Linked DNA regions of Homo sapiens. The protein of the gene in region 3 purifies or fractionates together with the protein of the main gene of each other region. This does not show direct contact. Each region holds a gene or a part of one and is shown on either strand. Other genes may lie near its edges.

What was found.
Region 1: the proteins of SMIM11 (region 3) and TTYH3 purify together in Homo sapiens (affinity purification with mass spectrometry; one large-scale study listed by BioGRID and IntAct). This does not show direct contact.
Region 2: the proteins of SMIM11 (region 3) and TMBIM4 purify together in Homo sapiens (co-immunoprecipitation; one large-scale study listed by IntAct). This does not show direct contact.

Annotation. Positions count from the first base shown.
Region 1 is NC_000007.14:2,638,486-2,641,985, forward strand, and holds part of TTYH3 (protein tweety homolog 3), read left to right. Parts: intron 1-3,500. UniProt on the Homo sapiens protein: Calcium-independent, swelling-dependent volume-regulated anion channel (VRAC-swell) which plays a pivotal role in the process of regulatory volume decrease (RVD) in the brain through the efflux of anions like chloride and organic osmolytes like glutamate.
Region 2 is NC_000012.12:66,149,497-66,152,996, forward strand, and holds part of TMBIM4 (protein lifeguard 4), read right to left. Parts: intron 2,881-3,500; coding exon 2,775-2,880; intron 1-2,774.
Region 3 is NC_000021.9:34,381,241-34,386,451, forward strand, and holds part of SMIM11 (small integral membrane protein 11), read left to right. Parts: intron 1-4,237; coding exon 4,238-4,402; 3' UTR 4,403-4,404; intron 4,405-5,211.

The sequences.
Region 1 (3,500 bases), on a different chromosome or scaffold from region 3:
CCTTCCAGGCCATTCCTGGAGGGTGAGGGCCAGCCCGGAGGGAGCCCCGGGGGGTGTGGGGCCATGTGCAGCCTGGCGACCTGGACCTCGGACCTCAGGAGTTGGGGACAGGGACACAAAGTTGGCCCCGACCCCGGCTCCCACGTGGCCGCTGCTGGCTGCACGTCCTCCAGGCACGGCCAGGAGCTCACCGTCATGGAATGCGTGAAACCCAAACCCAGCCTGGTGGAAAATCTGTTTTTAATTTTGGGCCAGTGTCGCTGGGAGCCTGGGCCGAGTGTGCTATGGGTAGGGGCTGGGGCCACGTGTCCAGCTTGGCCGCATGGGGGGCTGAGGCCTAGCCAAAGACTGTGACCCTGGACCCCCCACTTGTGCAAGGGGACCCACGAGGCAAAGGTAGGGGGACCCACTTCCCAGTGGCGGGCCCCTGACATGGGGGTGGTGGTAGTGGCTCGCACACGCCGAGCCCACCCTGGCCTCCCCAAACAAGTCTGGGCCCTAGGGATCCCGCCCCTTTCCTGACCCTGGCCCAGGACACCTGGGGGGTTCTCACAGTGCTGGGGGCCAGAACCCCTCGGTCTGCACTGGGGTGTGGGACCCCAGCCAGCCTCTCAGACACCCCCAAACCTTGTTGCTTCCTCTGGAGGAGGGGCCTTGGGAGTTCCAGGGCTGGAGTTCAGCATCCGTGGAGGCAGGTGGGGGTCACTCCCCTCCCACTCCCACCTCTCGCCTGCCACGTCCTCCCGGAGCCCCGTGCTGCTGCCATACGCACAGGCTCAGGCCAGGGCCTGGCTGGTCCCTGCTGCCAGTGTATCTTCGGCATGCAGGAGACGTTTGCCGCCTGGACCCTGTGCCAGGCCTTGGCTGACACTGTCCCCGGGCCAAGAGTGCCCTCCCCCACCTGTTGCGGTACCCACGATGCTCCCCACAACGGGAGTTTCAGTGACCGCCTCATTCCTCTTCCTGCCTCCCACAGCCTCCGAGCTCACGGGGCCAGCACTGTGGGCACAGGGGAGCCCCCGACCTAGCGCGGCCGAGCTGTCTGTCCAAGCCTGGGCCCCAGCACCCAGCGCAAGCTGCTGCTAAGATGCCCTGGAAGCTGATGCTCCCAATTAGCCCGGAGCCCAGCCAGGACCACAGCCGTCAGTGTGGGGACTCCGTCCCCATCCAGGAAGCCGGGGGTGACTCTGTCCCCACTGCAGTCAGGCTGTGTGGCCGTTACCATATTGTGTGTCTGTCACATGCCGGCACCTCTGGTGGGGTTCTGGCCCCTCAGTGGCCTCTGTGGAGCCTGTCCCTTTCCCTCCTCCAAGCTGTGTCACTTCCACACGGAGCTGGCACGAGGGGCGGGGCAGGGCTGGAACCCACCTTCTGCCCACCCCTTCTCTGGCCACCGGGGGCTGCTTCTCCTGCCACCCCTGCTCACCGTGCCCCGTGGCTGCACCCCTGGGGCTCGCTGGTCTCTCCCAATGCCTCGGGCAGCCATCATCCTCAGCTGTGGTCACGCTGCCTGGCCTGCCAGCTCACCCGCCCCCGCTGTGTGACTGTGGACTCTGGAACTCCCTGTGCCTAGCAGCGTGGCTCCAGGACACGGGCCCTATGTCTTCGCTTCCCTCCCTGCTCAGGGCAGACCCGCAGCAGTGTCCAGCCGAGGAGCGAGCAGCCGTGGCTGGAATGGCAGGGTGGTGGGATCGTGGCCACTGCCTGTGGCTGGGGCTGGAGGCTGCATCGGGCCAAACTTCTCATCAGAGTCCCTGTGAGCACCCCCCAGTGGGCCAGGGCCTCCTCAGCCCAGCCACGCGCCACGGTAGCCCACAGGTTGGTGGCACAGAGCGGCGTGTGGGTCCGTGGCGCAGGGTAGCGGGGTGGGCAGCTGCTCCCAGGCGTGTGCATGTAGAGCAGCCGCCTGTGTGTGTGTGGGGGGGGACGTGTGTTCCATAGGCCGGCCGTGACTTGCTGTGCACCCTCCCGAGTGGCATGCTTCCTCACACGCTGCCAGGCCCAGGTCCTGCCACCAGGTGCTCCGGGAGCCACCAGGATGCCCAGCAGCAGCCACCTGTGCAGGTGGCAGGCAGTGTGCCCTGCCCTGCTGTCATGCATGGCCCTCCCACCTTGGCAGCCTGGTGTGGTGTGGCCTGTGCTGGCGCTGAGCCTGGCATTGCGTTGGGGGGTGCCTGTGTCTGTGTGGCTGATGGGAGTCACGTCCAGACAGGGCCTGGAGGCAGAGTGGGCATGGCCAGGAGGCCGCGGCAGGCGTGGGGCACAGGCCTCACAGCTGCTCGTGCACGTCGTCTGCTCAAGTGCCCCGTGGGCCGTCCTAAGGCCTTGTGGCTCACTGGGCCCTCCCTTCTCCAAGCAGGGCTGGGTTGGGGCCACCCACCTGTGCAGGCAGCCAGGTCAGGTTGGGGGTCTCGCCTTACAAGTGCGGAGCCAGCCGAGGTTCACACAGAGCAAAGGCTGCAGCACCGGGTTTGGGCCTGGGTCTCTAATATCCTGGGGACATCCTGGAGGAGATGGCCTGTGTATGGGGACAATGGGGCTTCCCTGAAGGGGAAGGCTCCAGGCCCAGGGACAGCATATGCCTGGGTGTAGAGGCCACAGAGCCCTGCCCCGAGCCACACCCCAGCCCTGCCCGCTCCTCACCAGCCAGTGCCCCAGGCATCCCTGCCAGGCCAGGGAGGTCTTGCTCTGGCCCAGGGTATACTGGGATCCTATCGGTAGCAACCTGATCTGGGACAGAGTAAGGCTTCAGGCCCCGGCTCTCTGGCTGGCTGGGTGTTTCCAGAGTTGGTGGGGTTTTGGGGGCTGCATTTTGGGGGCTGCGGGGCAGTCGGGGGAGTCTGGGCTCACGGTGGGAGGGGGCATCCCCCATGGATGCCGTCTGTGGCTGTGGGGCTGCAGGGGCTTGGAGAAGGAGGGGGTGGCCCAGGGCCGAGACCAGGAGCCCTAGGGTGGGGGCAGGGGGACTGAGGCTGCAGGAGGGGGTCGCCCCCAGCCCCCTTGGCACATGTGTGGCAGTTGAGTCCTCTCCGTGTGCTCCGCGGAACCCAGCGTGCAGTTTTCGCCTCGCCTGACCGAGCCCTTACATCACTTCCACCACAGACGGAAAATTCCATTTGGTCAGAGCCCAGCTGCTGATCAGACAGTTCCCATTCTTTCTCTGAATGGGCCAGGGAGGGGCGGAGGGGCCGCCAGCCCGGTGGAGAGAGGTGGCTGGGCCACCGTAGGAATGCCGCTGGCCCGGTGCCCCGCAGGAGACCGTCTGCTGGGAATCTGGCTTCGGGAAGTGGGTGCAGAGGCCAGGCTGGCCACGGCACGCTCCCCGCAGACAGCTGGGCTCAGGCCTGGCGCGTTGGGTGCCGGGGCTCTGACGTGGGATGAAGCAGCTGCCCGGTTTGCTGAGCACCCTGACACCCAGGCTCTGCATGCTCGCAGTGGTGGGCTGGGACCCGGGCAGCCCAAGTGGGCTCCCTTTGAGGGAGGCGCCATCTCCTTCCTCA
Region 2 (3,500 bases), on a different chromosome or scaffold from region 3:
CAACATGATTATACTATATTCTTGCTATTTATGACAAGATTTTAGGAAAGAAATCCCATACACATTCAAGTATCTAAGGAAACAGGATGGTATAAATAAGAGTTAAGATAAGACTAGGAAAACATGATAATGTCCCTTTAAAACATATACACACATGCTCCTCGAGTTACAATGGGGTTACATGCCAATACACCCCACTGTAAGTTGAAAATATCGTAAGTAAAAAATGTAGCTCAGAGTGTCTTTGGTTAAAGAATCACCAATGCTTAAAGTCTGAAATTTCGTGGTTGCATATTGCTTTGACACCATCATAAAAGTGGAAAACATTAAGGTGAATGATTCTAAGTTGAGGACTATCTATCTATCTGTCTGTCTGTCTATGTGCATGCATACACACACACACACACTCCTACTAGGGCAAGATAAGATTCACCTCCTTTCTTATCTTGGTGGATCAGGACCAAAAAACTCCTAACGTTAAAGGTCCCTGAGTAATTTAAGGAAATGTATTGTACATACTTATTTGTTAAACCATTTTTAGCTATGGGCATGATGAATAGATTTAACAATCAGTGATTATCTTGCCTATAAGCATTTGGTTGATACTTTTCTAGTGGGACCTCTCCCTGCTGGGCAAAAGTTGAACCACACCCTCTTCCCACACAGAAATCAGTCTTTCTGAGAGGAGGCTACATGTAGATGCGAAGAGGAATTCTATATGGCCGTCTTTTTTTTTATACTTCCTCTTTCCTGAGACATAGCTGACTAGGCCAGGAGTTGGCTCTTACCCAAGGCCTGGCAACCCATATATTGACTAACAGCCTACAATGTGACCTGTGCCAACAACCAAGTGTACCAATCAGATTCTTTCTCTCTCCTTTCTTCCTTCCTTCCTTCCTTTTCCTTTCTTCCTCCCTCCCACCCCCCTTTCTTTTTAAGACAGGGTCTCACTCTGTCACTGAGGCTGGAGGGCAGTGGCGCAATCTCAGCTCACTGCAACCTCCACCTCCCGGTTTAAGTGATCCTCCTGCCTCAGCCTCCCAAGTAGTGGGACTACAAGCACGTGCCATAACATCTGGCTAATTTTTGTATTTTTTGCAGAGACAAGGTCTCACTATGTTGCCCGGGCTGGTCTCGAACTCCTGAACTCAAGCAACATGCCTGCCCCGGCCTCCCAAAGTGCGGGGATCACACAGGCGTGAGCCACCACGCCTGGACCAGATTCTTTCTGACTCAGGAATCTGAACTCAGAGATTGAAGCAATGGCAGTGGGAGCTAAAGTTAAATGACTCTGGGGGCAAACAATGGGTCATATAAAAATTAAAGATAGAAAAAGGGAAAACAATGTATAAGGACAACTGAGGTAGAGAAGAGATGTAATAGAACAAGGGAGAGGGGAACACAAACATTTGTCACTGAATTTCCTATGATATCATCATTTCTGGAATCTTCCTCCAGTTCTCCAGTTCATCTTCTTGAAGAGGATTTGGGTTGGTGGGTTCTCAAGCTCTTACATCCTTAAACTCCTTGTTATTTGCAATAACTTGAGTTAGAATTGACAATCTTGCAAACAAAAGAGCTTAAGATTTAAATGAATAATCTTTCCTATTACTGAAACTTTCAAAGTCATCAGCTTTTCATTTTAACACAAACTCATTATCAGAATTCATAAACTTTTTAGTTTAAAGCATTTTAATCTAATCAATAGCTTTTCCCACTCGTATTTGACTACAAGTATTCTTTTTTTGTTTGTCTGAGATGGGGTCTCACTCTGTCACTCAGGCTGGAGTTTAGTCACGTGATCTCAGCTCACTGCAGCCTCCACCCCGCAACCCCGTTACAGTGATCCTCCCACCTCAGCCTCCCAAGTAGCTGGGACTATAGGTGCACACCACCATGCCCAGCTAATTTCTGTATTTTTTTGTAGAGGTGGGGTCTCACTATGTTGCCCAGGCTGGTCTCAGACTCTCGGACTCCAGCAATCTGCCCACGTCAGCCTTCCAGAGTGCTGGGATTACAGGCATGAGCCACTGCACCCACCCAAGTATTCTTAATATTACTTTGGAATGTTCTGAAGTAAATTTTTAGGTTAGAATCTAGTCATACTGGATGAGAAGAGGCAAAATAATTTTTTAGACAGATAACTTGAGGCTTATCCCCTTATTCTGGTCATATTCTAAACTGAATTTTCATAAGTGGTAGTTTGGGTTTTAATTTTCACAAATATCTCAACATACATGACTTAAAGTTGGGTTCTCCCAACTATAATTTTGAAAAAAGTTACTAATGCACATAATTTGAGCAAAATGGTTCTTTAAAAGATCAGAGTGATAAGATAATAACAAAGAAGAGTTAACAATAAAGAATTTGAATTTTATGAAATTAAAGCCACAACATAATTTTCTCCAAAGAAAATAATAGAATATTAGAGGTAGAAGGTATCACAAGGATTTATCTACTTTAAAATTCTCATTTTACATATGAAAAAACTTAGACACAGAAAGGATAAATGCCTTGCCAAGTGTCACATAATCAGATAGCAGCAAAGCCAGGTCATCTATTCCAATTCAGCATTTTTTCCACTACATACTAATATTTGAAACTAATAAACTGTTAAAAGTTTTAAAAGACTATAAAATTACAATTAATTTCCTAAAGTACTCTAAAAAAAACTCATTAATTTTGTTCTGCCGTTGTTATATATGTATTATATATGCATTTATTTAAAACTCAGGAATAATTGTTAAGGGAATAGAGAAAGTCAGAGTACTCACAAATCCAAAAAGTAGGTACAGGTTAAGGGGATACTTATGTCTGTTTAAAATCAACGCAAAAATCAAACCCAGAGATCCGAGGGCAAACAGCAAAATTAAGGCAGGACTGAAAGACATAATATTAAGTGTTTCAAGTTAAAGAAAAAATAGCATGAGCAGTATTATCAAATTTAATAAAATTTATCTATTTTATATGTTTATGAAAGTACAGGGGAAAAAATCTGGAATGATCCACACCAAACTATCAAATTATTTTATATCTGGAAAATTTGAGGAGTACAAGGTAGAAAGGAGCCTCAAGACAAAGAAAAGAGCCCAAAATGAATGGGGGAAACTTTTTCTTTTTACCATATAAACTTCTATCACATTTGAATAATGTTTGCAATTAGTATACTAATATTATACAATAAAGAAATTTAAAAATAACAACTACTTTCTTAGGATATTTGCCATATGGCTGTAATTTAAATTAAAGAATTTTACCTCACATAGCAAACTAATAGTTCAAGACTCCCCTTTGGTGGGGAGAAGGGAAGGGAGGACAGAAATTCTCTACTTCTATGAAAATATTCATTAGTTCTCCTTTCCTTTAATATAACAAAACTGTATCATGGAAATAATTATGATTCATCCCTGATTAAAGATCAGGGATGAATCATGTGGAGCTCTTTTGAAAACTTCTTGGTGAAATTATGCTAGTCATGAGCCAAAACTAAAATGAACGCA
Region 3 (5,211 bases):
GGTGAGGTTTAGGGAGGTCATTCGCCCACTGCAGTGGCTAAGTCAGTAGAGGAGAGAGGCAGTAACTGGTACTAAGGGCCAGGGTTCAAAGCATTAAACCTCATGCCTCAAGGTGGTGTTTCTCACTCCTGAGCACTAGTTAAGGCAAGGATTTCGAGCCCCACTCCCAGAGTTTCTGATTGGGTAGATCTGGCTGGGGCCTGAGAATTTGCACTTCTTATAAGTTCCAGGCGGTGCTGGTGCACACTGGTCGAAGGCAATGCGTGGGAAGTTTTCCTCTTTAATTGTAGAGTGACACCAACCCATGTGACCACTCGGGCCAGTCTTGCTTGTGACAGTTTTTTCTGCCATCAGGAACAAAGTCTGCCCAAACCTTCCCAGCTTCTGCACCAGGGAAGTGGCTACCAGGGAGCAGCTTCGTGTTTAAACACAGCCCCATCTCGTGTAGTGTTAGAAAGGAATGGCCGCAGGCCGGGCGTGGTGGCTCATGCCTGTAATCCCAGCACTTTGGGAGGCCGAGGCAGGCAGATCACTTTGAGCTCAGGAGTTTGAGACCAGCCTGGACAATGTGGCGAAACCCCGTCTCTACAAAAAAATACAAAGATTAGCTGGGCATGGAGATGCGTACGTGTAGTCCCAGCTACTCGGGAAGCTGAGGCTGGAGAATTGCTTGAGCCTGGGAAGTGGAGGTTGCAGTGAGCCGAGATCATGCCCCTGCACTCCAGCCTGGGCGACAGAGTGAGACCCTGTCTCAAAAGAAAAAAAAAAGAAAGACAGTCATGGCCCTGATTGCAGAGAGCTGCAGAAGGTGGAAGGTTCAGTAGCCCCCAGTGCGTCTGGTGGCCTTCCCCCTCTGGCTCAGTGGGCCATGGCCGGCAGCGACAGTCAACAGTGCTACCTGTGCGTTAGCAACAAGTATGGCCTCATTATTTAAAAACTTAGTTATTCCCATTTCACAGATATTGGGGTTTTGTTTTTAAAAATTGATGTAGATCTAGGCCAGGCATGGTGGCTCACCCCTGTAATCCTAGCACTTTGGGAGGCTGAGGTGGGCAGATCACATGAACCCAGGAGTTCAGCACCAGCCTGGGCAACATAGTGGGACCCCAGCTCTACAAAAAATCAGAAAAAATTAGCTGGGCGTGGTGTCATGTGTCTGTAGTCCCGTCTACTCGGGAGGCTGAGGTGGGAGGATTGCTTGAGCCTGGGAGGTCAGGGCTGTGGGAAGCCGTGATCATGCCACTGTACTCCAGCCTAGTTGGAGTCTCAAAAAAATATTCATATAGATCCAGTCCACCCTGGCAGCATTCATTTTCCTCCCTGAAGGTCTGTATGTTTCAAGAGATGTAAGGGGTTTGTTAAAAGGAAATTGGAGGAAGGGGTTCATACCACTGAAGGTTAGTGCCTAAGAGAGGGGCAGGAAGGGGGCCCTGGAGCTCTTCGCTTTACCCTGTGAATGTTCTTGACCTCTGCTGCCCTTGTGCTGCGTCCTTCTCAGTCCACACTTCTGCCTCTTGCCGTGCGTCTCCACTGCCTGTAAAACAAAGTGAACACTGAAGCCTCCCACTAGGGTCCATTGGCTGATGCGTTTCCATTTCCATGGGTTTTCTAACTTCTGGATGAGAGAGTACATTCCTGCAATTGCTAAAGCTAAGTTTCCTATCTGGATTGTAGACAGCTATGGGCAGTAACATGGGCTTTGTTATATTAGTAATAGGGCCCCGGCCAGGTGCAGTGGCTCACACCTGTAATCCTAGCACTTTGGGAGGCCGAGGTGGGCGGATCACGAGGTCGGGAGTTGGAGACCAGCCGGCCAACATGGTGAAACCCTGTCTCTACTAAAAATACAAAAAATTAGCTGGGCATGATGCCGCATGCCTGTAATCCCAGCTACTTGGGAGGCTGAGGCAGGAGAATTGCTTGAACCCAGGAGGTGGAGGTTGCAGTGAGCTGAGATGGTGCCATTGCACTCCAGCCTGGGTGACAGAGCAAGACTCTGTCTCGAGAAAAATAATAATAATAATAGGGCCCCATAGGTTTATTCAGAGAGACTGAGAAAGCTGGAAGAGATTAGCTTTTCCCAGTGTGAGTCATTGCCTCAGGTAGCCTGGAAAATCCTAGCAAACAAAAAGAAGTTTATACAACAACATTCTTTTCATAGCTGGTTTGTATGCATGGCGTCAAACCTTCACCTCTAAAATGTGAACCTTCAAGAAAACAGGATTTCAGGGTTTACTGGAGGGAGGGGATTAGCCTAGGTCTGAGGGAAGAAGAACCTGGAAATGAAGTCAGTGTTTAAAGCTCCTTATATTTACCAGAGTAAAAAGTTGAAAAGTTTCACTTTTGGAACTTTTTAGTCTTTTGTACTGATGCCAGAGTGATCTTTCTGAAGTGTATGTGTTGTGCTTATTCTTTACTGTTAAAACGATATCATGGTTGAAAACTATTAGCTAATTACTGAGTGTTCTTGTGTTCTTACTGTTTTAGTAAAATTAAAACGATTTAAGTATTTGCGTCCCTGCCTCCTCCCATGATTTTCATTGTATTTCTATCATATCATGCTATATCCTTCTGCAAATATCCATACATAACCAGTTAAATGATTTCAGAGGTAGCGAGTCTAGTTGCCTCTGGAAAATTCAGTAGCCAAGCCATAGTGTATTTGCATATTGTAAATGTGAAGTGGATGGGTGTGAGGAATGAATCATATATAGTACAGGACAGCGTGATGCTACAGAGTTGGGCTTTGGAGCATTTGGAGCTGGGTCAGCCCTGCCTCGCTGACTGCTGGCCTCCCCGCCTCTGCATTTTCTCGGCTCCACCGCAGTCAGGGCGAGCCATCTGCTCATGGAGGTGGCTAAGGGCAGAAGGGAAAGCCGCATAAGGCACTTTGCATGCCGTGAGTTCCCAGTCTACAGCAGCTGATGCTACAGCTTCTAAGCGTGAAATCCACATCTAGTTCTGAGTCATAAAGAGTTTCGATACAATCATAGGAACATTCATCTACATACACTGTGATTTCATGAATTTCAGTTTGTTGAAAATCAGGCATCAGTGGAAGGGAGACTGGCCCCGGGGTTAGAATGTCCTTCCAACTGGCTCCTCATGAGGGAGCTGTGGGACCTTCAACCTCTCAACCTCCAGGAGCTCTTCTTTCCTTGCTCATATAACCAGGGGGTTGAGTAGGTCCCCTTGAAAGTTATTTCCAGCCCCCCGGTTCTGTGAGCATATTGTACACACTAACTAGGTTCAGATCAACTTCGGTTAGACTATTAGAGGGAGGTGCACATGTATCCCCCACAGTGGAATCTCATTGGTATTTCATATAATAAGTGATTGACAGAAATAAGGATTTCATTGGGATAAAATCCTACCTGGTCCTCTAAAATAATGATTGCTCAACCAGAGCATACCTTTTCACTATTTGGGAGGGAATTTTTAATCACACAAAAAGCACATACATATCATTCAGGTCATGCTAACCATGTGTATGGAACTAATATTGCTTTGAAGTACTATTTGCAATATATAGAATTTCACACAAAAAACCTACTAGTGCAAAGAGTGAGTAATTCAAATGCATAGTGTTTCCCTAGACTTTATTTTAGTGAATGGGGTTGCAAGAGCAGTTAGTAAGTAGCCATGTTTTAATGTTTTGAGTTCTGTCGTGTTTTATTTTACCAGCAAGTGCCAGTGCTAGTGAGTCTCTAGAAACAAGAGAAAATCCCAGAGTACTAAAGCTGCAGTTTCCAGAAGCAAGGTCTGATTCACCCTTACTTTGTAGATGAAGGGGCAGGAGCTCAGAAAGAAAGGAGCTCATTGCCTGACCCAGGTCACACGGTCAGTCGGTGGTAAAGTAGAGCTCTGACCCAGGCCTCCGGGCTCCAGCTCCTTTCACTGGATCTGGCTGCTGCCTCAGAAGCAAGGGCCTGGGTGATCAGCAGGTTGCACGGTTGAGCTGTGAGAGACCAGAGTCCCCACGCCTGTGGATGACCGGTGGTCCCCTCCATGAAGCCAGCCGCAAGCAAGCAGCAAAGAGCAGAGCTGTAACTTGACTGTTGGCCCCATGGGGATAGAGACCTTTTCTGCTTGGTCTCCAGTGTAGCTCCAGCCCCCTATCCTCGTGCCTGTTGCAGAATAGGTGCTAAGTAAATATTTGTTGACTGAAGGATCATAAAAGAAACCTCCCATATCGGTGATGGAACATTTAGTTAGCATGGCTTCTTTCTTCTTGAAGGTTCTTGAGCACGTGCCCCTGCTGCTGTATATCTTGGCAGCAAAAACATTAATTCTCTGCCTGACATTTGCTGGGGTGAAAATGTATCAAAGAAAAAGGTTGGAGGCAAAACAACAAAAACTGGAGGCTGAAAGGAAGAAGCAATCAGAGAAAAAAGATAACTGAAGGTGAGTCCACAGTACCCAACCTTGCAAATGGGAGCTGGCCAGTGGGTTGGGGTGACCAATCAATGAACAAGAGAGGTCTGAGACCTCCCTGTCCGTCGGGTCTGAAGGGCTGCGTGGGGGCATGTGGCCTCACCTGTTCTCTAAGGTAGAACTGCTCCATAAAGGGCCAGGTGTGCAGATCCTGGTCCTGGGATGTGAGTGCTGCTGAGCCAAGGTGCACGGAGCATTAGTTCATCCTTCTTGAAACCTGCGGTGGCAATGGTTCTTGACAGGTATTGGGTTAAGAATTGAGGACTCAGTGACAGCTGTGGACCTTCTTCCCAGAGAAGCACACATACTGAAACCATCTGCATTTGTGTGTGGGGAGAAGTTTGCAGATGTGGGGAGTCACAGGTCATTTGAAATTCCAAGATTAAGAAACCCTGTTACCTTTAAGATAAAGTCTGACTCCATGGTATGACAAATAAATCCCTTCCCAGTCTGGTCTTAACCCAGACCTCATTTGCCACATGTGCCCACTCCCCATCCCCCTGCAGGCCATTCCTCAGCCACCATGGCCTTTGGCCTTGCTTATTAGGTTCTTCCCAAGGACCTCCTCACCAGGCCTGAGGGTACACTCATCGTTGTCACCCAGTGCCTATCACAGTGCACACTGGTGGGCTTAGAACACACTTGGGGAGTTACAATACATCAAGGCACCAGAAAGTTCCTGTTAAGCCCCTGTTACAGATTTAACACATGACAATTCACAGTTACCTTGATTCCAGTGTGTTGATGCAGTTTCTTCACTTTGCAGGTTGAGTTCTG